Regions from separate parts of the Homo sapiens genome. Here regions 1, 2 and 4 are each linked to region 3. The links come from fine-mapping of genetic effects on gene expression. A gene starts in region 3. Each other region holds a variant in brackets. All regions are shown on one strand. Distances are between the middles of the regions.

The links. PIP is the estimated chance that this variant, and not a neighbour inherited with it, causes the effect.
Region 1: its variant is fine-mapped to the expression of SCD in whole blood (INTERVAL, PIP 0.94).
Region 2: its variant is fine-mapped to the expression of SCD in whole blood (TOPMed, PIP 0.97).
Region 4: its variant is fine-mapped to the expression of SCD in whole blood (INTERVAL, PIP 0.97).

Annotation. Positions count from the first base shown.
Region 1 is chr10:100,414,173-100,422,280 of GRCh38, reverse strand. No RefSeq gene overlaps it. Among named protein-coding and RNA genes, the nearest start is that of OLMALINC, 45 kb to the right of the region's middle. The variant C/G (reference allele first, on the strand shown) is at 3,260.
Region 2 is chr10:100,589,470-100,597,577 of GRCh38, reverse strand. No RefSeq gene overlaps it. Among named protein-coding and RNA genes, the nearest start is that of HIF1AN, 58 kb to the right of the region's middle. The variant G/A (reference allele first, on the strand shown) is at 3,140.
Region 3 is chr10:100,343,049-100,351,145 of GRCh38, reverse strand. It overlaps SCD (stearoyl-CoA desaturase), which reads right to left and starts at 3,913. Exons shown (of 6, transcript NM_005063.5): 1 at 3,615-3,913; 2 at 2,800-3,082. The coding sequence starts at 3,641. RefSeq lists enhancers at 3,549-3,788, 4,169-4,238, 3,887-4,478 and silencers at 4,019-4,068, 4,269-4,648.
Region 4 is chr10:99,988,505-99,996,612 of GRCh38, reverse strand. All of the region lies in intron 1 of DNMBP (dynamin binding protein), which reads left to right. Among named protein-coding and RNA genes, the nearest start is that of DNMBP, 17 kb to the left of the region's middle. The variant TTG/G (reference allele first, on the strand shown) is at 4,706.

The DNA.
Region 1 (8,108 bases), 71 kb before region 3:
GCACTCCAGCCTGGGCAACAGAGCGAGACTCAGTCTCACAAAAAAAAAAAAAAAAAAAAATTAGCCATGTGTGGTGGTGCACGCCTGTCATCCCAGCTACTAGGGAGGCTGAGGCAAGTAGCTGAACCTGGGAGTCAGAGGTTGCAGTGAGCCAAGATTGCACCACTGCACTCCAGCCTGGGCAACAGAGTGAGACTCTGTAAAAATAAAAAATAAAAATAAAAATAAAAATAAAAAAAAAACTAAACTCATCCCCCAAACCTCTTCTTCATTCTCCATGTCCCAAACTCAGTGAGTGATATCACCATAAACCCGGTTGCTGAGAAATACAATGTAACCAACAGTTTTGTTTTGTTTGAGACAGGGTCTGGTGTGATCATGACTCATTGCAGCCTCCACCTCCCAGGCTGAAGCCATCCTCCCACCTTAGCCTCCCTAGTAGCTTGGACTACAGACATGCACCACCACGCTTAACCAATTTTATTTTATTTTTCTGTAGAGGTGGGGTCTCACTATGTTGCCCAGGCTGCTCTCAAACTCCTGGGCTCAAGCGATCCTCCCTCCCTGGCCTCCCAAAATGCTGGGATTACAGGCGTGAGCCACCAAGCCCAGCCAACACATAGCTTTTTTTGTTTTGTTTTGTTTTTTGAGATGGAGTCTCACTCTGTCACCCAAGCTATAGTGCAGTAGCATAATTTTGGCTCACTGCAACCTCCACCTCCCAGGTTTAAGAAATTCTCCTCCCTCAGCCTCCCTACTAGCTGGGATTACAGGCGTCCACCACCACAGCCTGGCTAATTTGTTTGCTTTTTAGTAGATATGGGGTTTTACCATGTTGACCACGCTGGTCTTGAACTCCTGACCTCAAGTGATCTGCCCACCTCAGCCTCCCAATGTGCTGGGATTACAGGCATGAGCCACCATGCCCGGCCTTAACACATAGTTTTTATTTTATTTTTTGAGACAGAGTTTCGCTCTTGTTGCCCCAGGCTGGAGTGCAATGGCACGATCTCGGCTCACTGCAACCTCTGCCCCCCAGGTTCAAGTGATTCTCCTGCCTCAGGCTCCAGAGTAGCTGGGATTACAGGCACCCACCACTATGCCTGGCTAATTTATATATATATATATTTTTTTTTTCTTTCTTTCTTTCTTTTCTTTTCTTTCTTTTTTTTTTTTTTTTTTTTTTTTTGAGACGGAGTTTTGCTCTGTCGCCCAGGCTAGAGTGCAGTGGCGCAATCTCGGTTCACAGCAAGCTCCACCTCCCGGGTTCACACCATTCTCCTGCCTCAGCCTCACCCTCCCGAGTAGCTGGGACTACAGGCATCTGCCACCACGCCCGGCTAATTTTTTTTTGTATTTTTAGTAGAGACAGGGTTTCACCGTGTTTGCCAGGATGGTCTCGATCTCCTGAGGCCTCCCAAAGTGCTGGGATTACAGGCATGAGCCACCGCGCCCAGCCTTAACACATCGTTTTTAAACACCACTATGTGCCACACACCCTGCTACAGCATGTACCTAAGTAAGATGTTCAAGATAAATCCCTGTCCTAGGGTTGTTTATAATCTTGTGGGGAAGGCAGCTAAACAAATACTTGCACAAATAACTACTTAGTCATAATTGAAAGCGCTACCAAGGAAAAGGTAAGGAATCATCTTTGACGCTTTCTCCTCCTGCATTGAATCACCAGGTGCTGTTAATTCTAACTCCGAAGTCTCCAGATTGTCCTCTTCTCTCCACTTCACTGCTATCAGTATCTCAACTTAGACTACCGAAATACCTTCCTAACTGGCTCCCCTGTGTCTATCCTTGCCCCCACAGTCTATTTACCATGCTAGATCCATAGTGATCTTTTAAAAATGCAATTCTGCGTGTCACCTTCCTGCTTAAAACACTTCATTGGTTTTCTATTGCCCTTGGGATAAAGTCTACACTTCTTACCATGGCTTGAGAGGCCCTCTATGTCCTGGTCCCTCCTTGCTTATATCTTTACCTTACCGCTAGCCACCCTTCTCCTAGTTCTATTTCTGTGAGGCCCTACTTTTAGGGCCTCACTGTATACTTTTCCCTCTGCCTAGAGCACTCTGCTGCCTCCTCTCTCTTCTCCCACTGACTTTTCACTTAGCTAATTCCTCTTTTCTTCAAGTCTCCAAAAAGATTACCAGGTCAGCTTCCCGTATTATACCCTCTCCTAGCCCCTGTGGTTTCTGCTTTTGTAACATTCATCATATTTGTACTGTGGTGCTCTATGAGGACCGGTACCATGATTGTCTAGTTCACTGCCATCTCCCTAGCAGTACCTGGCCCAAGGCAGGCATTCAATAGATATTTCTTTTCTTTTCTTTCCTTTTCTTTTGAGACAGAATCTCCCTCTGTCACCCAGGCTGGAGTGCAGTGATGTATTCACAGCTCACTGAAACCTCGAACTCCTGGGCTTAAGTTATGCTCCCGCCTCCCAAGTAGCTGGGGCTACAGGCATGCAGCACCACACATGACTAACTTTTTTAGTTTTTGTTTTTTAGAGACAGGGTCTCGCTATGTTGCCCTGGCTGGTCTTGAACACCTGGCCTCAAGCAATCCTCCTGCCTCAGCTTCACAAAGTGCTGAGATTACAGGCATGAGTCACCATGTCCTGCCTCAATAGATCTATCTTTCTTTCCTTCCTCCTTCCTTCTTTCCTTCCTTCCTTTCTTTCTTCCTTCCTTTCTTTCTTCTTTCTTTCTTTCTCTTTCTTTCTTTCTTTCTTTTTCTTTCTTTTCTTCTTTCCCTCCCTCCCTCCCTCCCTCCCTCCCTCCCTCCCTTCCTTCCTTCCTTCCTTGCTGATTAAGATGAGGTCTGGCCACGTTACCCAGGCTGGTCTCGAACTCCAAGGGTCAAACGTTCTTCCCACCTCAGCCTCCCAAAGTGCTAGGATTATGGGTGTGAGCCACTGTGCCCAGCCTTCAGCCTTCTCAATAGATTTTTTTTTTTAAGCTACTGTATTGCTCTGTCACCCCAGGCTGGAGTGCAGTGGCATGATCTCGGCTCACTGCAAAGGGGTTCAAGCAATTCTCCTGCCTCAGCCTCCTGAGTAACTGGAATTACAGGCACACACCACCATGCTCATCTAATTTTTGTATTTTTAGTAGAGACAGGGTTTCACCACGTTGGCCAGGCTGGTCTTGAACTCCTGACCTCAGATGATCCACCCACCTTGGTCTCCCAAAGTGCTGAGATTACAGGTGTGAGCCACCGCGCCTGGCCAGGAGATGTTTAAAGGACT[C/G]TATCTTAAAAGCCTGCTGTCTTTCAGGCAATAGATGTGGTTTGTTTTGTTTTGTTTTGTTTTCAGAGATGGGGTCTCCCACTTTGTTGCCCAGGCTGGACTTGAACTCCTGGACTCAAGATATCTTCTCCCCTCAGCCTCCCGAGTATCTGGAAATATGAGCTCGTGCCTCCAGCCCAGCTCCATGTGTGTACTTAAACACTTACTGGAAGCTATACCACTGTGGGGTTTTGGGGGTGTTTTACTTCCCAACCTGTGTAGGGGAATTGCTTTTTTCCAGCAGGTATTTGGAACCTCAAAGTCGCCTTCAATCACGCTATATAAGCACTAACTCTACACATAATTTTTCTTTTTTCTTTTTAAATTGTGCACGTGTGAGTGTGGAGATGGGAGTTCCACCATGTTGCCAAGGCTGGTCTCGAATTCCTGAGCTCAAGCTATCTGCCCACCTCTGCCTCCCAAAATGCTGGGATTGCAGGCATGAGCCATTGTGCCTGGACTTTTCTTTACTTCTTTCCTTTCCTTCCTTCTTTCCTTCCTTCCTTCCTTCCTTCCTTCCTTCCTTCCTTCCTTCCTTCTTTCTTTCTTTCTTTCTTTCTTTTTCTTTCTTTTTCTTTCTTTCTCTCTCTCTCTTTATCTCTCTCTCTCTTTCTTTTTTTCCTTTTCTTTCCTTTCTTTCATTTTTTTGAGAGTTGCCCAGGCTGGAGTGCAGTGGCATGATCTTGGCTCACTGCAACCTCTGCCACCTGGGCTCAAACCATCCTATCACCTCAGCCTCCCAAGTAGCTGGGACTACAGGCATGTGCCACCACATCCAGCTAATTTTTGTATTTTTTTGTAGAGACGGGGTTTCGCCATGTTGCCCAGGCTGGTCTTGAACTCATGGGCTCAAGTGATCTGCCCACCTCAGCCTCCCAAAGTGCCAGGATTATAGGTGTGAGTCACGGCACCCATCCTACCTATAATTTTTAAACAAAAGGCAGAAACTAGCCAGGCAAAGATAGTAGAGACAAGATAGTAACAGATTTCACCCTACAATTTTTTTTTTATCCTAGCTCAGCTGGTCATTTGCCATATGAACTAGAGAAATCCCTTTCTTAGTTTTTCCACATTAAGTGGATATCATAGTATGAGCTTATTTTACCAAAGAGAAAAAATAATAATAATTAAAACGTAGTGCCGGCTGTGGTGGCTCAAGCCTGTAATCCCAGCACTTTGGGAGGCCAAGGCAGGCAGATCACCTGAGGTTAAGAGTTCGAGACCAGCTTGACCAACATGGAGAAACCCCGTCTCTACTAAAAAATATACAAAATTAGCTGAGCATGGTGGTACATGCCTATAATCCCAGCTACTCGGGAGGCTGAGGCAGGAGAATTACTTGAACCCGGGAGGTGTAGGTTGCAGTAAGCCGAGATTGCGCCATTGCACTCCAGCCTGGGCAACAAGAGTGAAACTCCATCTCAAAACAAAAAACAAAAACGTAGTATAAGAACCCTTATTGTTTTTCAGATTTAAAAGAAGTGTTTTCTAATGTTGAATTAACATTAATTCAGATTATTCCCATATTCTCCATTATGAAAGTAAATCAATATTGTTCTTTCTCTTCCTCTGCATTTTCACTCCTTCCCCTTCTTGCTTTCCTCTTGCTTCTCCTGCCCTCCTCTTTCCTCCCTCTTCTGCCCTTCCCTTCTTCCCTTCATAAACAACTTTAATCCAAAAGCCTAATGGTAAGCAAGGTAGATGTCTTCATGACAGGAGTGGTTGTGGGGACGAGTGGTGCTTAAAATCAGGTGCTGGAGTCTAAGCAGAGGAGAAGCGACCAGGCAGGGGTGGGTAAAGAGAGCAGCCATGTGGAGGGGAAGCTGGTGTGCATGGCTGGATCCCAAGTGCTGTGAGGAGACATCCATTTGCTGAAGAATAGGATAGTCAATAGTCGGAAAGTATCTCCCCACCAAATAATTAGTAAGTACCCGTCCTCCGCCACCTTAATCAATTGAACCAAATTACTATCCCCAGTAATGGGACAAATATAAATCACGTGCCACCGGATGGGATGCAGTGAGAACACAGCATCGGTGCCTTGGTGACAGTTCTGACAAAGATGCGTAAGCTGAGTCTCATCATGAGGATACATTAGTCAAGCCCACATTGAGGGATGTTCTAAAAAACAAGTGGCCATTAAGCTAGAAATGTCAAGATTGTGAAAGTCAGGAAAAGACTGTTCTAAATTGAAGGCAACTAAGGAGACATGATGACTGTATGCAATGCATGATTCCAGATTGGATTCTTCTGCTAAAAAGGACATTCTTGGGACGACTGAACGAGGCCTGAGTTTATGGTTGTAATGTGGTTATATAGGAGAATGCTTGTTGGAAACACACGCTAAAGAATGCAAAGGTGTGAGTTTCTATCTTTTTGAGAGAAAATAATAATAAAAAGAAAGAAAGAATACAAACATGATGGGCTAAACTGGCAACTAGCTTTCAAATGGTTCAGAAAAAGATAAGGTTCTTTGAACTGTACTTGCAACTTCTCTAAAGTTTGAGATTGTCTATATTAAAAAGATAACATCTACAGTTGATATTAAAAATTAACAAATAGAGGCCAGGTGTGGTGGCTCACATCTGTAATTCCAGCCCTTTGGGAGGCCGAGGTGGATGGATCACCTGACGTCAGCAGTTCAAGACCAGCTTAGCCAACATGCTGAAACCCCATCTGTACTAAAAATACAAAAATTAGCTGGGTGTGGTGGCACAGGCCTGTAATCTCAGCCACTTGGGAGGCTGAGGCAGGAGAGTCGCTTGAACCTGGGAGGCAGAGGTTGCAGTGAGACGAAATTGCGCCACTGCACTCCATTCAGCCTGGGTGACAGAGCAAGACTCCGTCTCACACACACACACACACATACACACAAAAGACTAGGAACTTGGAACCCCAAAATATCTTGCCCAAATGTCCCCAGATCCACTTCCAGAGCCTGCGTGGACCTCTTCCCTGGGTCTGTCCTCCCAAGGATGTATTGTACCCCCTGTGCACACCTCACTAGACCCAAGGGGGTGGCTGCTTGATTGTTGTGGAATGAGACTTAAACATGGGACCTGCAGAGTTCACATGAATGAGCATCAGAACTCTCCTGGTGTGGACAGAGCTGGGGCAGAGAGTGAAGGGGTCTGGAGGCTGGTGCTGGGGCCAGCTCGTCCCACACCACCACATTCTGGTGTGGGACTCTCAGGAACTTGAGAATTCTAAACCCAAATCTAGCCTTCTAGGTTATGAAGGCATATGTGTCAAGGGAAAGGGAAAGAATATATCTTTCTCTTATTTTATTTAACTGTTTCTTAGCTCGATTTGAAAATTTTTAATATTTAAACACATCTTTGTTCTTTTGTGCTCCTGCAAATGGTGGTTTGAAAATCCTCATGGCGACCTTTGTTTTCTACCTTATCATCATGAAAAGAAACATTAGGAAAGTGTAATTTAAAAAGCCCACTTGACCTGTCTGTGCCTTTCGTTACAATTTTTTTTTTTTTTTTTTTTTTGAGATGGAGCCTCGCTGTGTCGCCCAGGCTAGAGTGCGGTGGCACAATCTTGCCTCACTGCGACCTCCACCTCCCAGGTTCAAGCAATCCTCCTGCCTCTGCTCCCGAGTAGCTGGGATTATAGGTGCCCACCACCACACCCAGCTAATTTTTTGTATTTTCAGTAGAGCCGGGGTTTCACCATGTTTGTCCGGCTGGTCTCGAACTCCTGACCTCAAGTGATCCACCCACCTCAGCCTCCCAAAGTGCTGGGATTACAGGAGTGAGCCTCTGTGCCCTGCCTTTACAATATTTGTTATACTTCTCATAAGCATTTCATAAGTCAAGTTGGCATAGGAATAATTCGGCCATGGAAACAACCAGTATGTGCCAAGCAGTCACTTTAGAGAAGGTCAGTGACTGGAGATGGCACCACCTGGTTAAATGAGACATCACTCTCTTTCGCACTTAAGGATGGGCATGTCATTATCTCAACTCTATCCAGATTGATCAGAACTGCTGCGTGATCTACCAAGTGATTCACTTTGGTCTACAAAAACGAAGGTATCATGTTCAATTTACTGATGCTTCATGTTTTCATGTCTTTTTTTTTTTTTTTTTTTTGAGACAGGCTCTCCTTGAGTCACCCAGGCTGGAGTGCAGTGATGTGATCTCGGCTCACTGCAACCTTTGCCTCCTGAGTTCAAGCGATTCCCCTGCCTCAGCCTCCTGAATAGCTGGGATTACAGGTGCGTGCCACCACAGCCCAGCTAATTTTTGTATTTTTAGTAGAGATGGGGTTTCACCATGTTGCCCAGGCTGGTCTTGAACTCCTGACCTCAGGTGATCAGCCCGCCTCTGCCTCCCAAAGGGCTGGGATTACAGGTATGAGCCACCACGCTCGGCAGATGCTTGATATTTTCAAAATTTGGCCAAAATTTGTATTTTTGTGAAAAGTCTGAATTGAAACTAATCTGATTCTGTCTCTCCTTTCCTCCCTTCTTTCTTTTTCTCCTATCTTCCCTCCTTCCATCTTCCATTTATTTGCTCCACAAAAAGAAAGCTATTGGGAATTTCTTCTGTCTTGGAACGTAAACAGACTTTTTAGGAAGAAAGCAAATTAGTTTATAGACCCAGAGTCCAGGACTTTTGCTTTTTTCTTTCTTGCTTTTGTTTTTAAAAAATGTTTTATGGGCTGGGTGCGGTGGCTCACACCTATAATCCCAGCAGTTTGGGAGGCCGAGGCAGGAGGATCATGAGATCAAGAGATTGAGACCATCCTGGCCAATGTGGTGAAACCTCATCTCTACTAAAAATAAAAAAATAGCTGG
Region 2 (8,108 bases), 250 kb before region 3:
TCCGCCTCCCAGGTTCATGCCATTCTCCTGCCTCAGCCTCCCGAGTAGCTGGGGCTACAGGCGCCCGCCACCGCGACCGGCTGATTTTTTGTATTTTTAGTAGAGACCGGGTTTCACCGTGGTAGCCAGGATGGTCTCGATTTCCTGATCTCGTGATCCGCCCGCCTCGGCCTCCCAAAGTGCTGGGATTACAGGCTTGAGCCACCGTGCCCGACCAGAGTGATTTGTTTTTAACGCAGCCTGTTTATGCCAGCTGCACATACTATTCTTATCTAATTTAACTAAATGTTACATAAACCAATAAAATACAAGTGCAAAACTAATGTTGCTGTTTGGAAAAATTCCATAACACCAACTTGCTTAAAGTTTTTGTTATCAAATTATGTATTGGTGAGACAACTGGAAAAGATGAGGAACAATCATAAAAAAAAACCTAGGAATTTCACTCATATTGGTTCTCAAATACTTTCCAATTCCCAATCAATGTTAAAGAAATCAAAGCTGAAAATGGCAGTCAGCACATTCTGGGTGTAGCTCATTAAAGAAAGATGAGGCTGGGTGTGATGACTCATGCCGGTAATCCCAGCACTTTGGGAGGCCGAGGCAGGTGGATCACCTGAGGTCAGGAGTTCGAGACCAGCCTGGCCAACATGGTGAAACCTCGTCTCTACTAAAAATACAAAAGTTAGCCAGCTATGGTGGCGGGCACCTGTCATCCCAGCTACTTGGGAGGCTGAGGCAGGAGAATCCATTGAACCCGGGAGGCGGAGGTTACAGTGAGCCCAGATCGCGCCACTGCACTCCAGCCTGGGCGACAAAGTCAGACTCTGTCAAAAAAAAAAAAAAGAGAGAGAGAGACGAAAGAAAGAAAGAAAGGGAGGAAGGAAGGAAGGGAGGAAGGGAGGGAGGGAGAAAGAGAGGGAAGGAGAGAGGGAGAAAGAGACAGAGAGAGAGAGAGAAAGAAAGAGAGAAAAGAAAGATGATGGTGAAATGTCAATCAGTGCATCCATACACAAAGAAAGGTCTTGGTCCTACATGAACAAAGTGGACAGCAAATATTCCTTTATTTGTTTTAAGTTAAAATTAAAAAAAAATTATGGTATGTAAAGGCAAACTGTGAAGTGGCCCCAGCCCTCCAGAAACGTAGGGTTTAGAGAGGGAAACTGATAAGAAAGTTATTGATCTTACTGGATTATAATGGAGGTTAATGGGACAGAGGGGAGGGGATGCCTAACTAGAGCAATGGCTGTAGAGGATTCCTGGATGGGCTGGTCTCTAAACCGGCTCTGCTCTCCCTCACATCTATCCCACAGCTCCTTTCAAATCTTCCTGCAGCATAAAAACTGAAGACTTGCCTTCTAGCTTTGTCCAATGGCCCCCTTAATTTCAGAACCCCCCACCCGCCTCTTTTTTTTAAAGACAGCGTCTCTTTCTTTCACCCAGGCTGGGGTGCAATGGCACAAACACGGCTCACTGCAGCCTCTACCTCCTGGGCTCAAGTGATCCTTTTGCCTCGGCCTCCCTTATAGCTGGGACCACAGGCATACACCACCACGCCTGGCTAATTTTGTTATATTTATTTATTTGTCTGTTTGTTTATTTATTTATTTTTGTAGAGATGTGGGTCTCACTTTTTTGCCCAGGCTGGTCTTGAACTCCTGGTCTCAAGCAATCCTCCTGCCTTGGCCTCCCAGAATGCTGAGATTACAGGTGTAATCTCATGCCTGTAATCTTACGCCCACATCCCAGTATTGACATAATCTCCAAGAGTGTTAGAGGGGAAATAGCTGTTTTCCCTGGCATTAAAGGGGAGCCTCAAGGATCACAGAATGCTTTTGGGAATTTCCATACGTGCATTTACTTCAACCTTTTTTGATTCTTTTTTTGTTTGTTTTGTTTTTTTGAGATAGAATCTTGCTCTGTCTCCCAAGCTGGAGTGCAGTGGTGCGATCTCGGCTCACTGCAACCTCTGCCTCCTGGATTCAAGCCATTCTCCTACCTCAGCCTCCCAAGTAGCTGGGATTACAGGCATGCATCACCATGCCCAGCTCATTTCTGTATTTTGGTAGAGACAGAGTTTCACCATGTTGGCCAGACTGGTCTCGAACTCCTTGCCTCAAGTGATCCACATGCTTCAGCCTCCCAAAGTGTTTGGATTACAGGTGTGAGCCACCATGCCCGGCCTTTTTGATTCTTGATATACTATTTCAGCTGTGCTCCATCTCTCAGGGTGAGGTCTATGAAGAACTTGTGCAAAACAAGTTGTACTAATTTTCTTTTATTGTTTCTTAAAATTAATCTTTCTATTTTGAGGCAATTTTAGATTCATGTGCAGTTGCAGGAAATAAAACAATACCCTTTGCACAGTTTCACCTGCCTAATGGTAACATCTTACAAAACTGGAGCACAGTATCACAAGCAGGACATTGACATCAATAACAGCCAAAGTACAGAACATTTCGATCACCACTGGGATCATTTCTGTTGCCATTTTGTAGCCACACCTTCTTCTGCCTAGCCCTCACTCCCTTCGTAGCCACTGGCAACCACTAATCTGTTCTCCATTTTTATAATTTTGTCATTTCAAGAATATCACATAAATGAAGCCATACAATACGTAACCTTTTTTATTTTTTATTTTTTGATAAAAAAATAAAATCTCACTCTGTCACCCAGGCTGGAGTGCAGCGACGCCATCTCGGCTCACTGCAACCTTAACCTGGGTTCAAGCAATTCTGGTGCCTCAGTCTCCCAAGCAGCTGGGACTACAGGTGCACACCACTACACCCGGATAGTTTTTTGTATTTTTAGTAGAGATGGGGTTTTGTCATGTTGCCCAGACTGGTCTCAAACTCCTGACCTCAAGTGATCCGCCTGCCTCGGCCTCCCAAAGTGCTGAGATAAAAGGTGTGAGCCACCGCGCCCGGCCAGTGTGTAACCTTCTGAGACTGGATTTTTCACTCAGCATAATTTTCTGGAGAATCTAGGTCTAGGTCACTGCATGTACTATTACTTCATTCTTCTTTATTACTAGGTAGTATTCCTTGGCATGGATGTACCACCATGCACCATTCACCCACTGAGGGATATCAGGATTATTTCCGGTTTGGGGTTATGATTAATAAAGCTGCTATGAACA[G/A]TTGTGTACAGGTTTTGTGAGGACATCATTATAAACACCTAGGAGTACACTTGCTGGATCCTATGATAAGTGTATGTTTAATTTTTTTAAGAAACTGCCAAACTATTTTCCAAAGTGACTATACCATTTGACATCCCCACCAGCAATGTGTCAGTGACCATCCCTGCATTCTTGCCAGCATTTGGGATTGTCACCTACATTTTTTTTTCTGTTTTTAAGAGATGGGGTCTTGCTATATTGTCCAGGCTGGAGTGCAGTGGCTATTCATAGGTACAATCCCACTACCAACAGGCGTGTATGATATCTCACTGGGTTTTTTAAAAAAATTATCCTAATGAGCTAATTTTTCTGAACATCTTTTCGTGTGATTATTTGCCATATGTATATATCCTCTTCAGAGAAATGTCTCTTCATGTCTTTTGCCCATCTTCTAATTGGTTTATTGGTTTTTGTTTTGTTTTTACTGTTGAGTTTTAAATGGTCTTTTTAAATTTATTTATTTATTTATTTTTTTCGAGAGAGAGTCTCACTCTGTTGCCCAGGCTGGAGTGCAGTGGGCGTGATCATGGCTCACTTCAACCTCCACCTCCCGGGCTCAAGCAATCCTCCCACCTCAGCCTCCCAAGTAGCTGGAACTACAGGTACGCACCACTAGGCTTGGCTAATTTTTAAAATTTTTTGTAGAAATGAGGTCTCACTATATTGCCCAGGCTGGTCTCAGGCAATTCACCCACCTCAGCCTCCCAATGTGTTGGGATTACAGGTGTGAGCCACTGTGCCTGGTCTAAATATTCTTTATATATTCTAGATATTAGTTCTTTGTTGGACATGTGGTTTGCTAATATTTCATCTCAATCTCTAGTTTGTCTTTTCATCCTCTTAACAGAGTCTTTCATAGAGCTAAAATATTAAAATTGATAAAGTCCAATATATCAATTTTTCCTTATATGGATCATGCTTTTATTTTTAAAAATTTTATTTTAAAAATTTTATTTTAAAAAATTTAATATCTTCATGACTTTTTTTTTTTTTTTTTTTTTAGAGACAGGGTCTCACAGTGTTGACAAGGCTGGTCTCAAACTCCTGACCTCAAGCAATCCTCCCACCTCGGTTTCCCTAAGCACTAGGATTACACGTATGAACCACCATGCCCAGTTTCTGGCTCATACTTGTGGTATCAAGTCTAAGAATTCTTTGCCTAGTCCTAGATTCTGATGATTTTTGCCTATGTTCTTTACTAAATGTTTTATAATTTTATATTTTACATTTGTGCACTTGAGTCTGTGATTCAATTTTTTTGTTGTTGTTTGGTTTTTGTTTGTTTGTTTGTTTGTTTTGAGACAGAGTTTTGCTCTGTCACCAGGCTGGAGTACAGTGGTGCGGTCTCGGCTCACTGCAACCTCCGACTCCCTGGTTCAAGCAATTCTCCTGCCTCAGCCTCCTGAGTAGCTGGGGTTACAGGCATGTGCCACCATGCTCAGCTAATTTTTGTATTTTTAGTAGAGACGTGGTTTCACCATGTTGGCCAGGATGGTCTTGATCTCCTGACCTCATGATCTGCCCACCTTGCCCTCACACAGTGTCGGGATTACAGGCGTGAGCCACCATGTCCAGCCTGTGATTCATTTCAAGTTAAACTGTGAATAAGGTGTGAGACCTTAGGTTGAGGTTTTTTTCCTTTTTTTGGTGGGGGTGGGGGCAGGGGGTAGCTACAGATATCCACTTGCTCCAGAGCCATTTGTTGAAAAGACCATCTTTCTTCCATTGAGTTATTTTTGTACTTTTGCCAAAAATCAGCTGGGCATATTTGTGTGGCTGTATTTCTGGATTCTCTATTCTGTTTCATTAATCTATGTGTATATACCTCTACCAATCTCTTGGTTACTATAGCTTTATCCTTCTTTTTCAAAATTGTTTTTAGCTATTTTAGCTCCTTTGCCTTTAACAGATAAATTTTAGGATAATCTTATCTATATTTGCAAAACATCTTGCTGTGATTTTCACAGGAATTTTGTTAGACCTGTATATCAACTTGGGAAGAATCAACATCTTTATTGTATTGAGTCTTCCAATTTTTTTTTTTTTTTTTTTTTTTTTTTTGAGACAGCGTCTCACTCTGTCACCCAGGCTGGAGTGCAGTGGCATGATCATGGCTCACTGCAGCCTGGAACTCTTGGGCTGTGGAGAGATGATCTTTCCACTTCAGCCTCCTGAGTAGCTATGACTGCAGGTGTGCATCACCATGCCTGACTAATTTTTTTGTATTTTTTGTAGAGATGGAGTTTCGCCATGTTGCCCAAGCTGGTCTCCAACTCCAGGACTAAAGCGATCTGCCTGCCTCAGATTCCCAAAGTGCTGAGATTACAGGGGTGAGCCACCACACTTGGCTAAGTCCTCCAATCTGTAAATATGGTATGTCTCTTCATTTATTTATTGGATCTTCTTTTATTTATTTCATCAGCATTTTGCAGTTTTCAGTACACAAGTTCTGCATGTTTTGTTGTATTTACATCTGAGTATTTTATTTTACTTTTGAGTGACTGTAAATAGTGTTTCATTTTTAATTTCAGTGTCCATCTGTTCATTGCTAGTATGTAGAAATACAATCGATGTTTTTGCATATTTATCTTGTATTCTTCAACCTTGCTGAACTCACTTTTTAGTTCTAGAACTTTTTTTGTAGATTCCTTTGGATTTTCTCAGCAGAAAAGAATGTCTTCTTTTCTGATCTGTATGCTTTTTTTTTTTTAACAGAATCTTGCCAGGCTGGAGTCCAGTGACATGTTCTCAGCCCACTGCAACATCCACCTCCCAAGTTCAAGCGATTCTCGTGCCTGTCTCCCGAGTAGCTAGGACTAGAGACATTTGCCATCACGCCTGGCTAATTTTTGTATTTTTGGTAGAGACAGTGTTTTGCCATGTTGGCCAGGTTGGTCTTGAATTCCTGGCCTCAAGTAATCTACTCGCCTCGGCCTCCCCAAGTACTGAAATTACAGGTGTGAGCCACTGTGCCTGGCCTGATCTGTATGCTTTTTATTTCCTTTTCTTGTATTATGGCACCGGTTTAGATATTCCAATTTGATTTTGTCAAATGCTTTTTCTGCATCAACTGATATGATTATGTGATTCTTCTTCTTTAGTCTGTTAATAGGGTAAAGTACATTAGTTGATTTTTGAATATTGGATCAGCCTTTCATCCTTGGAATAAACTCCAACTACTCATGGTATCTAATTTTTATTATATATTGCTGGGTTCTATTTGCTAGTATTTTCTTGAGTGTTTCTACATTTATTTTCATGAAGAATATTGGTCTGTAATTTTCTTTTTTTTCTTTTTTTCATACCATCTTTGATGATGGGTAATATTAGTTTCATAAAATTAATTGGAAAGTGTTCCCTCTTCTTCTATTTTCTGGAAGAGATTACATAATGTTGTTCCTTCTTCTTTAAACATTTGTTAGAACTCTCCAGTAAAACCATATAGGCCTGAAGATTTCCTTTTTGGGGAGTTTTTAAATTATGAATTCAATTTCCTTAATAGAGGGCTATTCAAATTATCTATTTCCTGTTGGGGGAGTTGGGGTAGTTTGTATTTTTAAAGAAATTTGTCCAGTTCATCTAAATTGTCAATATTTATATGTGTAGTTTTTCATAGTATTCCATTATCCATTTGATGTCTGCAGGGTCTGTAGTGATATCTCTTGTTTTATTCTCGATATGGGTAATTTGTGTCTTCATTCTTTATTTTTTGTCAGTCTTGCTAGAGGATTATTAGTTTTATTGATCTTCCAAAGAACTAGCTCTTTGTTTCACTGATTTTCTCTATCATTTTCACATTTCTAGTTTTGTTGGCTTTTGCTCTTTTCTTTATTGTTTCCTTCCTCCACTTGCTTTGGATTTCCTTTGCTCTTCTTTTTCTAGATTCATGAAGTAGAAGCTTAGATGGTTGATTTGAAATTTTCTTCTTTTCTAATGCATAAATTTGGTGCTATAAATTTTCCTGTCACCACTGCTTTAGCTATGACTCACAAATTTTAAGATGTTGTATTATCATTTTTGTTCAGTTTGGTGTATCTTTGTGACTACCTCTTTGACCCATGGATTATTTACAAGTGTGTTGTTTTGTTTCCAAGTGTTTGAAGATTTTCTTGCAATCTTTCTATTATCAATTCAATTTTTTAAAAATTCCATTTGTGGTCAAAGAACACACTCTATATGATTTCAATTCTTTTAAATTTGCTGAGTTTGTTTAATGGCTCAGCATATGCTCTATCTTGGCATATGTCCTATGGGCACTTGGAAAAAATGTGTATTTTGCTGTTGTTGAATGGAGTGCTTTATAAATGTCAATGAGACCCTAATAGTTGATGGTATTGTTGAGTTATTTTGGTTTTCTATCTATTTAGTTCTATCAATTGTTGAGGGTGTGTTGAAGTCCTCAACTATGTATTTGTCTGTTTCTTCCTTCAGTTCTATCAGGTTTTGCTTCACATATTTTGCAACTCTGTTGCTTGGTGCATAGACATTTAGGATTGTTATGTCTTCTTGATGGATTGACACTGTTATAATTACATCACGTCCCTCTCCATCTGAGATAATTTTCTTTGCTCTAAGGTAGACCTTATCTGATATTAATGTAGCCATTCCTATTTTGATTCACATTTGTATGATATATCTTTTTCCACCCTTTTTCTTTCAGTCTGCTTATATAGTTATACTTGAAGTGAGTTTCTTATAGGCAGCATATAGTTGGATCATAAATACCAATCAATTCTGCCAAGCTATGTTTTTTAGTTTATGTACATAGGCCATTTATATTTAATGTAATTATCAATGTTAGGGCCTAAGTCTGCCACTTTATTTTTTGTTTGCTGTTATTTCTGTTTTTTATTTGTTTTCTTTTTCCTGCCTTTCTGGGGTAACTTGAACATATTTTAGAATTCTACTTTTATTTTTCTGTATTGTTTTT
Region 3 (8,097 bases):
TCTTAACAATGTTTCATTCCTAGGGAAACAGCTAGAAACAATAGATCCTCAGTGGCCACAGAACTTAGTTGCAGTTGGAGACACCACACATTGTAACAAATTGTCCTGTGTTCTTTTGCAGCCATTGATAGCTGTTTCCTAAACAACCTCCTTTTCCCCCCAACCCTACCTCCTTTCTTCTCTTCTATTCCTCCTATAAGATCTCCAGGAGAGCCACAGAGCCAGTCAGCCCCAACAAGAGCTCTCTCCACATTCCCTCAGAGTGGGGACTGAGGCCCCAGGTGATCTGCCCTCAAGCCAAGTGGTGACTGACATCTCCCCAGATACAGTATCTACCTGCATCTTACTCGGGAAACCATCAGTTGAGCCAGAGCTCTCTCTAATGAGCAAGGGAGCTTCTAGGGTTGTTATTTGCTGCAAGACCCTAGGGCAGTGTTGACTCAGAACGTATATAAGATCCTATATTAACAGGGAAATTGGGGAAAGAACTCAGGCACTCTGGTGCCTTTTCTAGAAACACCTCTAAGCCTATCAAATAGAAGGGCTTAAATCAGTTGGAGATTTATTCCTTCTCTCCTCCCCAGGGGAGGAAAATGTCCAGATTGATGGTTAAGCAACATCTCATTGCTCTGGCCTTAAGAAAGAGACTTGAATGGTTTTGCCTCTGGCTCTCAGTGTTGCCAGAGGCATTCTCCTAAGGGCTTCTTTGGGAGACTCCAAAATGAAAGAGATTTAAGGCTCTCAAAAGTGCTCAGTCATAAGAAATGCTGGAATCACGACCAGTTGCTAATTTAACATTGTCCATAGGGATTAAAACAAGAAAGGTGAAGCTCCTAAATTCTGAAGGTGGGAAGAGAAGATGTCCAAGTTGAGACCTCTGACCCTCCTCCCCTCACCCTCCTTGTTTCTCAAGACAGAGGAGTTCTGATATCCCCACATCGACATGGTCATTCTTTCAGCTAAGCCATCCACCAAAGGGCCCAGTAAAATAAGTTACCATCTAGTCTCTGTGAGCCACATTTATCTGCCCAAGGGCACAGCACACACCCATGGGCAGGTCACCAAAAAAATGTAGCAGGCACAGCCTTCACTTTGGGATGGAATTCTGCTCCTTGCAGTAGCAACTGAGGATAACCAAGCAGAGGCAATCGGGTCAAACTCTGGGCTTCAGGAAACCTACAGGGGGTGCTGAGGCTGGAAGGAGCTTGCAGGAGAGAAAACTACTTGTGAAGACTATCCTCTTGGGGAGAAAGGGTGGAGAGAGGCATCCACAGACTGCCTGGGGAATGCTATCCCTGCTCCTCATCCCTCAGCTGCAACTGAAGTTCTGCTGGATCCTCAGAGGGGCTAGACAACAGATGTCGCCCTCCCCTCACAAATACAAGAGCTCTTCCTGGTATGCAGATGAACTGATCTGCACCTGGCCTGTTCTGTCTCTGCGGCTGTGACACATATGTAACCCAAGGAATGCTACCTTCCCCATCCTAAAAAAGTACTGTTGCCCACAGGTGGTACCTAGAAAAACTGAGATCCTGACAAAGGGGCTCTTCTCAGTTGCATTTCACTGTAGCACCTGGAGGATTTCTGGAAACAAAAGCTCAATGAACCAGATCTCACCATCTTCAGAAGACCTAAGAGGTCCTGAGGGAAACAGCTAAAACTTGGCCTACCAGCCCTTCTGCATAACTACCCTTCAAGAGCGAGCTGTCAGAAAGTTTCCCACACCAGAAGTCCTGGCTCACCACCCCTTAGAGAGTAGCAGTGCAGGGCCCCTGGATCTGCAGAGCTCCCTGCTTTCCCTTCCCAACTTAGGCTCATAGTGACAGAGGTGAAAAAGCCTGCAAAGCGCATGTGTGTATCCAGGGGGCAGGGCCATGCCATCAGGCCACACCAACAGGTCCCTGAAAGAGCTGAGCTAAGGGCAGGTCGGGGACAAACTGGGAACTGTCTCCCTCATTACAGCAGCCTCAAGACCGGGCTCTCTTTTCTGGCCTGGCCTCGATGTCCCTGGCAAGGAGGGATGGGTAGGACTGGTGTTGGAAGGTGCAGAATTCTTGGCACTTCATGGCATCAGTAGGGGGGCCTGAAGCAGGCTGGACGGGGGATGGAACATGAAACATATCTTCAGCCTGATTTCATTCTAAGAGCATTTTGTTGACTGGTATGTGCAGCACCCTGGAATGTAGAGTAACAGAGCAACACACACCTGTGTGACTTGGGTTGCACGGGAGCTTCATCTTCCTCTGTAACGAAGAAGCCTGGTCTGGCCAAGGGGTCAGGTCAAAATAGTTTTGTGGATAACAACCTCTCTTTTCCTCTCTTTCCAATGAGCTCTCTCCTCCCTTTCCAATAAACTCTCTCCCTGAGTAGTTTCCCTTGTGCTAGCCTATGATTGCTCAACACAAACCCTAGAAAGCCAATGGTTTAGTACCATGTTCCCATGCCTCCCAGGTAGAGGGGTTTGATTCTTTTGTGGCTGGCAGGGGTGGGACAGGCAGCCAAGCAAATGACTCAAACAGAAAAGCTCTTTCAGGGAAAGCTGACTCTCCAGCACAGCACACTTCAAAGCCCACAAGCACAAGGTTCCAAAGCTCTCAACCCCCAGCATTGACAGTCCTGCATCTCAGTACCCCCAGGTTCTTCCCAGCCCACTAGGCCTGAAGCAACCAAAGAGAAATGCCTGAGAAAAACCCCAACCGGGAGGCTGGGAGGGGCTGGTGTCCTCTGTAAGATCCTACCTTATTAAAAGAGCAGTGAGTACCTGGAGGACTAGGTCAGGAGGACAGGGAGGCTGCTTACCCCAAAGCCAGGTGTAGAACTTGCAGGTAGGAATCAAAGTGATCCCATACAGGGCTCCCAAGTGTAGCAGAGACATAAGGATGATGTTTCTCCAGACATATTCAACCTTGGGGCTTGGGCCTTCCTTATCCTTGTAGGTGGGGTCATATATATCATCTTTTATATCAGGGCGAATGTCGTCTTCCAAGTAGAGGGGCATCGTCTCCAACTTATCTCCTCCATTCTGCAGGACCCTGGAGGGAGGCGCTGTAATGGTGGTGGTGGTGGTATAGGAGCTAGAGATCTGGAAGGGGGAGGAAGAGGAGAGTCAGGAGAAGAGACACGTGGAGGCAGCTGGGGCCACTCCGCTCTCTAATCACGCTGGGGGAAGGGTGGACAGTACGGACCCTTCCGCAGCGCCGTAGTTCACTGAGGGTAGGGTGTATCCGAGACGCAACGGAGAAAAGTTCCCTGAAACTGTACAGATACATTAGGGGCGGAGGGCGAGGGGGACGAGGGGCGCGAAACCTATCGGGAGGCGGCAGTAGGAAGGAGAAGTAAAGCACTCACATCCCCACGAAGACAAAGGAAAACCCGCATAATTCATAAAAGCACCAGCACGACCGGATTTTTCTTTAAAGCTTAAGAAACTAAAGTTGGAGACTCAAGTCCCCAAATTACAATCCACATTCCCAACTCACGGAAGGCAGCACAACTCGAAAAAGATGACCAAGTCCTCCGCGGAGCTCTCCCCTCTCTTCTGCCACCAACCCGTCCCCTGGAAGCCCAGCCCGCGCCTGCGACCCGGCGGTACGGGGCCAGGCTGGGAAACTCACATCGTCCTGCAGCAAGTGGGCCGGCATCTTGGCTCTCGGATGCCGGGATCACTTTCCAGGGGGCTGAGGCTCCGGAGCGGAGTTCGGGGTCGCCGGAGGACTGCGGTTTCGAAGCCCGCCGGTACGCGCTGAGCCGCGGCGCCTTGCACGCTAGCTGGTTGTCGGCGCTAGCCGCGGTGCGTGGAGGTCCCCGAGCCGGGAATTTAAAGGCTAGAGCTGGCAACGGGTGACCGTGTCCGGTATTTCCTCAGCCCCCTTTTATCCGCTGCCAAGCAGGGGCAAAGTGCGAGGAGTTGACTGGCGCGGGCGGTCCCGCGTGGAGGTAAGGGCGGGAGGGGGAGGAGACAGAGGCCGAGGCTCGCGGCGACCGCAGCAGGGCGCCGGGGATGCTGCCGACACCGACACCACACCACCCGGCCTCTGCCCCTGCCCCTGCCTCTGGGGAAATGCTAATGAGGCTTCTGTAAACTCCGGCTCGTCATTGGCCGAAGGGAATTTGGTGCCACCTCGTCCTGCCGTTGCCATTGGCTCGGCGCAATCTGCTGTTCCCTCTGCCGCCAGCTCCTCGCTCCCCCTCCCCTCTGTTTCTCCTTCTCAGCTTCTCTTCCACCCGCCGCTGGGCCTCTGCCCGGCATCCCGCGTCGGGAGCTTTCTCTCTGGAAGGGGCTGGGGACCCGGTTTGGGGCTGGGGCGCGGAGCCTAGCCCAGGACCGGCCCTCGGGCACACGGAGAACGGGTGGGTGGGCACTGGGGAAGTTTCTCAGGAAACAGTGGTGAACCCTCGGGGGGCGCCCACCACTAACATCTCCGTCCCGTCTTCCGTCCCCCCAGGCGCGTGGCAGGGAGACGTGGCAGCCACCCCAGGATCTGGAGCTTGGGGGACGCGGGAAGCCCCGCCTCCCTCCCGGGCGAGCGCGGGGGACTCGGTACGCCTGCGAACAATGGCTCTGCCCCGCCCACCAGCCACGCGCTGCTCACCCGGGACCGCACCGGACTCCGGCCGCACACACAGGCTGGCTGGTGTGTGTGTGCCTGCGCGCACGCATCCTGTTCAGGACCCGGGCGGGCAGTCCCATCCCCAAGCCCGCGCCTCCAGGATGCGTGCGGGATGTTTTGGAGATTCTTCAGACTGGCAGGTTGTAATTTTGGAATCTTCTTTGTGGAAACCGTCAGGAAACACTGACATGTGTTTTCACCCAGCAGCAGGCGAAAGGGCTTGGATGTGGAATAAGAATAGCTGGCAGGTATTGAATTATTACTGCAAGCCAATTCACAAGAATCGTTTTCTGTAAGCCTCTCTGTGACCCTGGGAGGTGGGTACCCCATTATTCCATTTTAAAAGTGAGGAAAGAGATATGGAGAGATGGAATAACTTGCCCATGGTCACAGCAACCAGTAAGTGATGGAGCTGGCAGTTGAGCCCAGAAACACCATATGAGAGCCCAAGCTCTTAATCCCTGCTCAGGACCATATTGCCCTCGGTCCCTGAGATGCTCTGACCCTACTGATCTGTCCCTGTGCCCCCATCTTTTCCGTGTCTGTAGGAGCCTTACCATGAGAGCTCAGAACCAGGCAGGCTATGCATTCACCCGGTGTCCTTCCATGCCCATGTCTTTCCCAAATACTGCCCTAGGATCCTTCCCCTGGGAAGAGGAGAAAATACGGAGTGCTGCGCCAATGATTCACTTCCCAGGAAGACAAGCACCTGGGATTTCCTGGGAGGTAGACTAAGCAGCTCCTTTGTTGGCCACTGGTCTCAGGGTCAGGCCAACTCTCTGGCCAGTGACCAGGAGACTGCATTCCAGTCCTGGCTCCCTGTCCGGTGTGAAAGTTCTGAACAAGACTGGATGATTTCAGATGTGGACAGCTCATCCAGTCATGCCTCAGAAGTACTTGGCATGTGGCACAGAAATCTGTACGTGGTCTGACCCCCTTCAGGTTCTCTCTGCAATGTCTAATTTGCTTAATTCTTTTGTTTTTTGTTTTTTTGAGAGGAAGTCTCGCTCTCTCCCCCAGGCTGGAGTGCAGTGGTGTGATCTCGCTTCACTGCAACCTCTGCCTCCCGGGTTCAAGAAATTCTCCTGCCTCACCCTCCCAAGTAGCTGGGATTACAGGCATGCGCCACCACACTTAGCTAATTTTTTGTATTTTTAGTAGAGACGGGGTTTCACCATGTTGGCCAGGCTGGTTTTGAACTCCTGACCTCAGGTGATCCACATGCCTTGGCCTCCCAAAGTGCTGGGATTACAGGCATGAGCCACCACGCCTGGCCCGGAGAATATTTTCATTCTATTTCTCTTTCGAGCAGAGATCACCTCTACTCCTGAGGCCCTGGTCACACTGTGGTTCTCAAGTGACAGTGGTCAAACCAACACACTGATTTGGATTCTAAGATTTATTTTTTTTGGTCTGGGGGCCCTACCTCAGCAAAAGGAACAATAGTTACAACAATTATGACAGCAAAAAGTTTGAGACCAGCTTGGCCAACAAAGTGAAATCCCATCTCTACTAAAAATACAAAAATCAGCTGGGCATGGTGGGAAGTGCCTGTAGTCCCAGCTACTTGGGAGGCTGAAGCAGGAGAATTGCTTGAACCCGGGAGGCGAAAGTTGCAGTGAGCTGAGATCACACCACTGCCCTCCAGCCAGGGTGAAAGAGCAAGACTCTTTCTCAAAAAAAAAAAAAAAATTGTGATTTTTTATTATTTTGTTTACAGCCAAGCTCCTTAATTTTGGTATTCAAAGTGCTTCATGATTTTACTCTGAACGCCCTATTCCAGCCTTAATTCTCACTTCTCACTTAGTATAACTTGTATCTTCATCAAACTGCACATTTGTCAACAGAATATAAAATAAAACTCCGAAAAACCCCTGCACTCTTGCTGATTTCTAAACATGCTTCATTTTCCCAAGTTTTTCTTCCCCTGAACTCTGCCTGTCAAAATATTACCCGGGATCCAGCAATTCCACTCCTAGATATAAACCCAACAGAAATGAAAACATATGCCCACACAAATGTATACATGAATATTCACTGGAGTATTATTCATAATGGTCAAAAAGTGGAAACAACCTAAATGTCTGTCAACTGACTAATGAACAGATAAGATGAGCACTTTGGGAAGTGGAGGTGGGGGGATCATGGCAACATAGTGAGACCTTGTCTCAACAATAAAAATACAGCCTGAGCAACATAGCAAGACCTCCTCTATACCAAAAATCATTTTTTAAAACTTAGCTGGGCCTGGTGGCACAAGCCTGTAGTCCCAGCTACTCAGGATGCTGAGGCCAGCGGATTGCTTGAGCCCAGGAGGGGAGGCTGCAGTGAGCTATTATTACGCCACTGTACTCCAGCCTGGGCAACAGAGTGATACCCTGTTTCAAGAAAAAAAATATCAGCCAGGCATGGTGACACGTGTTTGTAGTCCCAGCTACTTGGGAGGCTGAGGCAGGAGGATCACTTGAGCCCAGGAAGTCAAGGCTGCTCAGCTGTCACCATGCCACTGCCCTCCAGCCTGGGTAACAAAGTGAGACCCTATCTCAAAACAACAACAACAAAAAAGAAAGAAAATGAATACATAAAATGAAAATTAAAAAAAAAAATTAGCCAGGTATGGCTGTGTGTGCCTGTAGTCCTAGCTACTCTGGAGGCTGAGGTAGTAGGATCACTTGAGCCCAGGAGTTTGAGGTTACAGTGAGCTATGATTGTGCCACTGCACTCCAGCCTGGGTGACAGAGTGAGAACCTGTCTCTAATAATATGATATGGGATACCCACACAGTGGAATACCATTTGAGAATAAAAAAGAATGAAGTACTGCTAAGTACTGTAACATAATGAGCCTTAAAAATAGAATGCTAAGTGAAAGCAGCCAGTCACAAAGTCTCACATGTTGTTTGCTTCCATTTATATGAAATGTCCAGAATTGGCAAATTTATAGAGACAGAAAGTAGATTGGTGGTTGCCCAGGGCTTGGAAGGAGGATGGAGGATGTTGGGGGGTGATGGCTAAGGAATGCAGGGTTTATTTTTGGAGTAATAAAACTGTTCTAAAATGGATTGTGATGGATGCACAACCTGTGAATATACTAAAAGCCATTAAATTGTATGATTTAAATGGATGAATTCTATGGTATATAAATTATATCTCAATAAGAAAAGTATAAAAAAAAAAAAAAACTAAAGACTGGGCATGGTGGCTCACGCTTGTAATGCTAGCACTTTTGGGAGGCCGAGGCGGGTAGATCGCCTGCGGTCAGGAGTTCCAGATCAGCCTGGGCAACATGGTGAAACCCCGTCTCTACTAAAAATACAAAAAATTAGCCCAGGGTGGTGGCGGGCACCTATAATCCTAGCTGCTTGGGAGGCTGAGGCAGGCTGAGGCAGGACAATCGCTTGAACCTGGGGGGTGGGGGTGGAGTCTTGCTCTGTTGCCCAAGCTGGAGTGCAGTGGCACGATCTCAGCTCACTGCAACCTCCACCTCT
Region 4 (8,108 bases), 350 kb after region 3:
CTAGCTGGTTATTTTAAGTAAGGATTTTGCTTTGATTAAAGATGTTGAAAACAGTTATGAAAATCTTTTGGGTTGAATTTTATTTTTTTAATTTAGTTGGAGTCTCGCTTTGTCACTCAGGCTGGATTGCAGTGGTGCGATTTCGGCTCACTGCAACCGCTGCCTCCTGGTTTCAAGTGATCCTCGTGTCTCAGCCTCCTGAGTAGCTGGGATTACAGGCGGGTGCCACCATGCCTGGCCAATTTTTTATTTTTAGTAGAGACGGGGTTTCGCCATTTTGGCCAGGCTGGTCTCAAACTTCTGACCTCAGGTGATCCACCTGCCTTGGCCTCCCAAAGTTCTGAGATTACAGGTGTGAACCACCGCCCCCAGCCTTTGGGTTGAATTTTACCAACATGTTCAAACGTTATTCTTGTATCCCATAGGTGGGATTCAGGCTTGGTGAATATTCTCTTCTTGTGATTCCAAACGTTTAAAAATTAAAATATAATTATTATTCACAGTAAGTGTTGATGAGAGGTGATTTGCTAGTTTACTGATTGTTTTCCCTGCAGTGATCAGCTAACAATAAAAATAGCACTTCATGTTCACAACTGTTCACAGGTAGCAATAATACATACAGGAGATAATGTATTTGAAAAGCAGTCTGTAAATGTAATTGTACTGTAATAATGTGTCCACGTGGCCTTGCAGAGAACTGCCCATTGTAGATCAATGCCTACTGTGCCTGACGTGGCAGCACCTGGGTGACTCCACTGTCCCTTCTTGAAGACAGACGTGTTTATTATTTTGGCAACAGCCACTGGCCCCAAAAGGCAAAGATAATCAGACAGTGTTTATATAGTTGCTCTTCCAGATTGTTTGTCACATTCTTATAGAATAGCCTGTCTCTCTGTGTATTCACTTTTATTTCTGTCCATCATAAGACACAGGTGCTCCAAGTCACATATCTGCAACCACTCTGGCCCACCAGCACTTCAAAGCTCACCCCATGAAATGCCCCCAACAAGCCTGTTTGGTCATGACTTAAACAAAATTGGATGTCTTTTTCCTAGATTCCCCTGCCAGTATTTTGGTGAGGCTAGAGCTTAGTGTATATGGTAGGTAGAAGGGTGTCAAGAAATGAGGTCAAACTTGTATGCCGGGACTAGCTCATGACAAGCTTTGTATGATCTGCAAACAAGTTTTAGACACTTCCTGCAAGTGATGGATGGGGAAGCCTTAGAGGAACTTCAGGCGGTAAAGATGTATAAGATTTCTGTTTTTGCCAGGTGCCGTGATCATGCCTGTAATCCCAGCAGTTCAGGAGGCTAAGGTGGGTGGATGGCTTGAGCCCAGGAAGAGACCAACCTGGGCAACATGGGGAAATCCATCTCTACAAAAAATACAAAAATTAGCTGAGCGTGATGGCCCACGTCTGCCGTCCCAGCTACTTGGGAGGCTGAGATGGGAGGATTGCTTGAGACTGGGAGGTCAAGGCTGCAGTGAGCTGTCATCGCACCACCGCACTCCAGTCTGGGCAACAGAGTGAGACTGTCTCAAAAAAAAAAAAAAAATTGTTTTCAAGCTGGGCACAGTGGCGCATGCCCAGCTGCTTGGGAGGCTGAAGCCATAGGATCACTTGAGTAGGAGTTTGAGTCCAGCCTGGGCAACATAGCAAGACCCTGTCTCTTTAAACAAACAAACAAAACCATTTTTAAGAAGATAATCCTAGTTGGGTGTGGAAAATAGGACAAAGGCAGATAAGATTGGTAGGTAGCCATTTAGGAAGCTATTGCAGGAGCCCCAAAGAAAAGATGATGAGAATCATAGTTTGATGTGTTTAAAGGATTTAACAGTAATGCCAATGTTTTTCCTAGAAGTACAGGATATGTTTTAGAACAGTCAGTAAATTGATTTCATATCCCTCTTCTATTCCTGGAAGGCATTTGGCAAAGGCTTTCCTGGACCCATATGCAGGGATCTCATTTATAAACTTCTGCCAAATCCTTGTGGGTCTGCTGTGAAGACACAGCTCATTTTAGAGCTTAGAGTAGAGGGGCACGTCAATTGCGTTGTCCTGGTGACCAGTAACCACAGAGTCACATGACTCCCCCTTCCTCTCAAGAAGACAGCAGCAGTTTTGAGAAGTTGGCCCCGCCTAGAGCCTGCTGTCTCATCCCTATTATTTATGTTCCCCTCCGCCTGGGTGATGATGGTCATAATCGTCATCACCCGCCATTGTCATCACTGTTCTCATTGCTGACATTTACTGAGTACTGTATGTACCATTTGCCAGGAAATGTATTAAATGTTTTACCTACATTATCAAATTTAATCCTTATACGCCCTATGAAATAAATTACTGTTATTATCTTCCATTACAGATGAGGAAACTAAAGTTCAGAGGGGTTTAAGTAACTTGCCCAAGGTCACATAGCTTGATAAATGGCAGAGCCAGAAATTGAAACTAAATTCTGTCTGACTGGAGTCTGGGCTCCTAACTGTTATGTAGTTATTACTTAATACAATTCAGTAGCAAATATGACTTCTCTTTAAATTTGCTCTTTTATGTAGCATCATCCACCCAGTGAAAGTTCACTTAATCAAACACTGTGTTTGTTACCTACCCTCCATGCCCATCCTATAACAGGCATAAAACACAAGTTTAAAGTATCTATTAAAACATTAAGTGTAGGAAAAACTTTGTAGGGGAGGGGAGGTGGATGTGGGTGGCAGAATAGGGAAGCTATTTAAATTTCTAGCTTTTTTCAAGGCAGAATATTCATGTATGCCTTCTCTATTTTTTTTCTACCTTCACAGTTTTTTTAAAGACAGGGTCTTGCTTTGTTGCCCAGGCTGGAATGCAGTGGCATGATCACAGCTCACTGCAGCCTCAAATCTCCCAGGCTTAAGCGATCCTTCCACCTCAGCCTCCCAAGTAGCTAGGACTACAGGTGCACACCAGCATGCCCAGCTAATTTTTAATAAATTTTTGTAGAGACAGTCTCACTATGTTGCCCAGACTGGTCTTGAACTCCTGGCCTCAAGTGATCCAACCCCCTTGGCCTCCCAAAATGCTGGGATTACAGGCATGAGCCAACATGCCTGGCCTGCCTTCACTATTTTGTGTGAAGTATAGAGATTTCGGAAAGAGGAGAGACACTTACTTTTAAAAATTGAGATACAATTCACATACCATAAAATTCACCTTTTAAAAGTATATAATTCAGTGGTTTTTAGTATATCCACAAAGTTGTACACCCATTCACCACTAATTCCAGAGCATTTTCATTACCCCCAAAAGAAACTTCATACCCAGTAGCAGTCAGTGCTCATTTTCCATTCCTGAGACATTCATTTTCAAACATATTAAATACCAGAATACATCCCAATGCTATGAAAAAGGTTTTGGGAGTGTCTATCTACAATTCCTCTCTCTTTAATGCAGATAATGATAATAGCTGACACTGGTGTAATGCTTACTATTTGTGAGGTACTATTTTCAGTGCTTTACATATATTAATTTCATTACAACCCTATGAGCAGGTTTTATTTTTATTTTTATGTTGAATCTTTATTTTTATTTTTATGTTGAGTCAGGGTCTTGCTCTGTAGCCCAGATTAGAGGGTGCAATCACCACTCACTGCAGCCTTGACCTCCTGGGCTCAAGTGATCCTCCCACCTCAGCCTCCTGACTAGCTGGGGCTACAGTTGCACACCACCATGCCCAGCTAATTTTTTGTATTTTTTGTAGAGACCAGATTTCACCATGTTGCCCAGTCTGGTCTTAAAACTCCTAGACTCGGCCGGATGCGGTGTCTTATGCCTGTAATCCCAGCACTTTGGGAGGCCCAGGCGAGTAGATCACGAGGTCATGAGATCGAGACCATCCTGGCTAACACGGTGAAACCCCATCTCTACTAAAAACACAAAAAATTAGCCGGGCTTAGTGGCGGGCGCCTATAGTCCCAGCTACTCGGGAGGCTAAGGCAGGAGAATGGCGTGAACCCAGGAGGTGGAGCTTGCAGTGAGCCGAGATCACGCCACCGCACTCCAGCCTGGGTGACAGAGCCAGACTCCGTCTCAAAAAAAAAAAAAAAAAACTCCTAGATTCAGGCAATCTACCTGCCTCAGCCTCCCAGAGTGCTGGGATTACAGGCGTGAGCCACTTTACCCAGCCAGGTTCTATTATTAAACCCATTTTACAGATAAGAAAGTTAAGACACAGAGAATTAACTTGCTCCAAAGAAGCAAGTAAGTAATTAAGTAATTGTTTTAATAAAAAGTTAAGTAATTGCTGTAATAAGGGATGGAGCTGCCATATAGATCTAGGTAGTCTGGCTCTATAGTCTGTGCTCTTAACTATTACATTTTGTTTTGTTTTGTTTTTGAGACGGGATCTTGCTCTGTCACCCAGGCTGGAGTGCAGTGGTGTGATCTCAGCTCACTGCAGCCTCAACATCCTGGACTCAAGCAGTCCTCCCACTTTAGCCTCCCAAGTAGCTGGGACAATAGGCACATGCCACCTCACCCGCCCAATTTTTGGATTTTTTGTTTTAGAGATGGGGTCTCACTATGTTGCCCAGGCTGGTCTTGAACTCCTGAGCTCAAGCCATCTGCCCCCTTGGCCTCCTAAAGTGGTGAGATTACAGGCATGTGCTACTGCTCCCAGCTTAACTTACATACGCTCTAAGCTGATCATATTTCTTTTTTTTTTTTTTT[TTG/G]AGGTGGAGTCTCGCTCTGTCACCCAGGTAGGAGTGCAGTGGTGCAATCTCGGCTCACTGCAAACTTCGCCTCCTGGGTTCACACCATTCTCCTGCCTCAGCCTCCCGAGTAGCTGGGACTACAGGCGCCTGCCACCACGCCTGGCTAACTTTTTGTATTTTTAGTAGAGATGGGGTTTCACCATGTTAGCCAGGATGGTCTCGATCTCCTGACCTTGTGATCCGCCTGCCTTGGCCTCCCAGAGTATATGGGGTCTTTTGTGATTGGCTTCTTAGCACAATGTTTTCAAGGTCTTCATGATGAAGCTGATCATATTTCTATTTTAAAATGATATGAAGACCTTGAAAACATTGTACTAGGAAGCCAATCACAAAAGACCACATATTACATGATTTCATTTATATGAAATGTCCCAAATAGGCAAATCTATATATAGAGAAAGTAGATTAGTGTTTGCCTAGGGCTGGAGAGGAGAGGGGATGTTGTGGGGAAATGGGAAGTGACTGCTAGTGAGTATAAAATTTCTCAGACCGGCCGCGGTGGCTCACGCCTGTAATCCCAGCACTTTGGGAGGCCGAGGTGGGCAGATCACGAGGTCAGGAGTTTGAGACCACCCTGGCTGACATAGTGAAACTCTGTCTCTACTAAAAATACAAACATCAGCCGGGCATGGTGGCACGTGCCTGTAGTCCCAGCTACTCAGGAGGCTGAGGCAGGAGAATCGATTGAACCCGGGAGGCAGAGGTTGCAGTGAGCCGAGATCACGCCACTGCACTCTAGCTTGGGCAAGAGAGTGAGACTTCATCTCAAAAAAAAAAAAAAATTCTTTATGAGGTTTTGAAGTTCTAAAATTGATAGTGATAATGGTCACACAACTCTGAATATGCTAAAAACTCATTGTACACTTTAAATGGGTGAATTGTATAGTATGTGAATTATGTCTCAATAAACCTGTTTTTAAAAAATGAGATGAAGAGAAACAACCAGAATAATGATGTTGCTTAGAATATCTTTGCCTTCACCTGGAAAAAGCTATATATATATATATATATGTGTGTGTGTGTGTGTATATGTATATGTGTATATATATATATGTGTATATATGTGTGTATATATGTGTGTATATATGTGTATATATGTGTATATATGTGTATATACATGTGCATATATATGTATATTTGTGTGTATATGTGTGTATATATGTGTGTGTATATATATGTGTGTATATATGTATATGTGTGTATATATATACACTTATACACACACTGTCTTTCTTGTCCTTTTTTTTTTTTTTATTCATTAATTTGGGGTGTTTAGTCATTTGCAACCAATCCTATTTTTTATTTTTTTTTTTGAGACAGGATCTGGCTTTGTCACCCAGGCCGGAGTGCAGTGGTGTATCTCAGCTCACTGCAACCTCTGCCTCCTGGGTGGAAGCCATCCTCCCACCTCAGCCTCCCGAGTAGCTGGGACTATGGTTGCACGCCACCATGCCCAGCTAATTTTTGTATTTTCAGTAGAGATGAGTTTCACCATGTTGCCCAGACTGGTCTCAAACTCCTGAGCTCAAGCCATCTGCCCACCTTAGCCTCTCAAAGTGCTGGGATTACAGGCATGAGCCACCACGCCTAGCCAGCCAATCCTAATTTTAACCATTGTATCTGCCTACTAAAAAATCTTCAGGTGCCGCTAATTGCCCAAAAAACAAAACCCAACCTTCCTAACCTGGAAATAAGTCCTGTGAAACCTCATGTACCTCTGTGGGAAAGAATAGTGTGATCACTGGGAATGTGAATGTACGTTTTGATGTATAAATTAAGACAGTTCAGTATGTTAAACCATTCATCATGCAAATATTTACGGAGGGCTTACTGTGTATCAGGCAGAACTCTAGGTGCTTGATTGACATCAGTGAATAAAATAGACAAAAAGAATCCCTGCCCTGTAGGACATACAGGAAACAGGGATGGATCCAAAAGAGAATAGTTAACTCAGATGGTAAGAGTTATGTATGGGTTTAATAGAAGAGGGGGCAGTTTAATAGAAGAGGGGGTACATAGCAGTTTAATAGAAGAGGGGGTACATAGCAGTTTAATAGAAGAGGGGGTACATAGCAGTTTAGCTGATCTGAGCTAGACTAGGTTGAATCCTATAGTCTTCCATTTGGGTTCAAGTCTGTTTTTTCTTTTTTTTGAGACAGAGTTTCGCTCTTGTTGCCCAGGCTGGAGTGCGATGGCGCGATCTCGGCTCACTGCAACCTCCGCCTCCCAGGTTCAAGTGATTCTCCTGTCTCAGTGTCCCAAATAGCTGGGATCACAGGTGCCCACCACCACACCTGGCTAATTTTTGTATTTTTAGTAGAGATGGGGCTTCACCTTCTTGGCTAGGCTGGTCTCGAATTCTTGACCTCAGATGATCCACCTGCCTCAGCCTCCCAAAGTGCTGGGATTACAGGCGTGAGCCACTGCGCCTGGCCTCAAGTCTGTTTTTTCTTGTCTTCATTCTGGGGCCCAGGCTAAAGAGCCAGGGGCTTTCAGGGCATGCTCTTCTAATGGCAGATTACAGGAGCACCAGAGGACAGGCCAAACCATAAAATAATGGCTGAAAGCCTGTGCTTATGCCATCTCCACTCCACTCCAAGTCCTACCAAAATGTGACAGGGAAACATACTCTGCCTGTAGTGGGAGGCACTGCATGATTACACAGTAAAGGGTATGGATATGCAATTCTATATTTGTATACTATTAATGATATACATAATGATATACATTATTATACACATATAATTACACATCTTGTAAGGATATATAATTCCTACAAGAGGGTGAGGATTATTGAATAGCAGTTCTGTCTACTAGCGTATATATTATAAGAATAAGAAGTAGCTGAAAAAGTTTGAATATAGAGGTGAATGGACATGGGTATAGAAAGGGCTAAAAGTTGGCTGGGTGCAGTGGCTCACGCCCATAATCTCAGCACTTTTGGGAGGCCGAGGCAGACAAATCACTTGAGATCAGGAGTTTGAGACCAGCCTGGCCAACATGGTAAAACCCCATCTCTACTAAAAATACAAAAATTAGCCGGGTATGGTGGTTCATGCCTGTAGTCCCAGCTCCTCGGGAGGCTGAGGCAGGAGAGTCACTTGAACCCAGGAGGCAGAGGTTGCAGTGAGCCAAGATTGAACCACTGCACTCCAGCCTGGGTGACAGAGCAAGACTCCGTCTCAAATAAATAAATAAATAAATAAAAATAAAAATAAAATTGTCAGAGATATCAAGATATTGCTAGAGGAGTGGGGACAAATTGTGAATTATGGTGGTTAAATGATGCACTGATCTTTGTCTCGTTTCAGTGTTGCTAGTATGAATTCTAATTCATAACACTATGGTGTAAAGACATT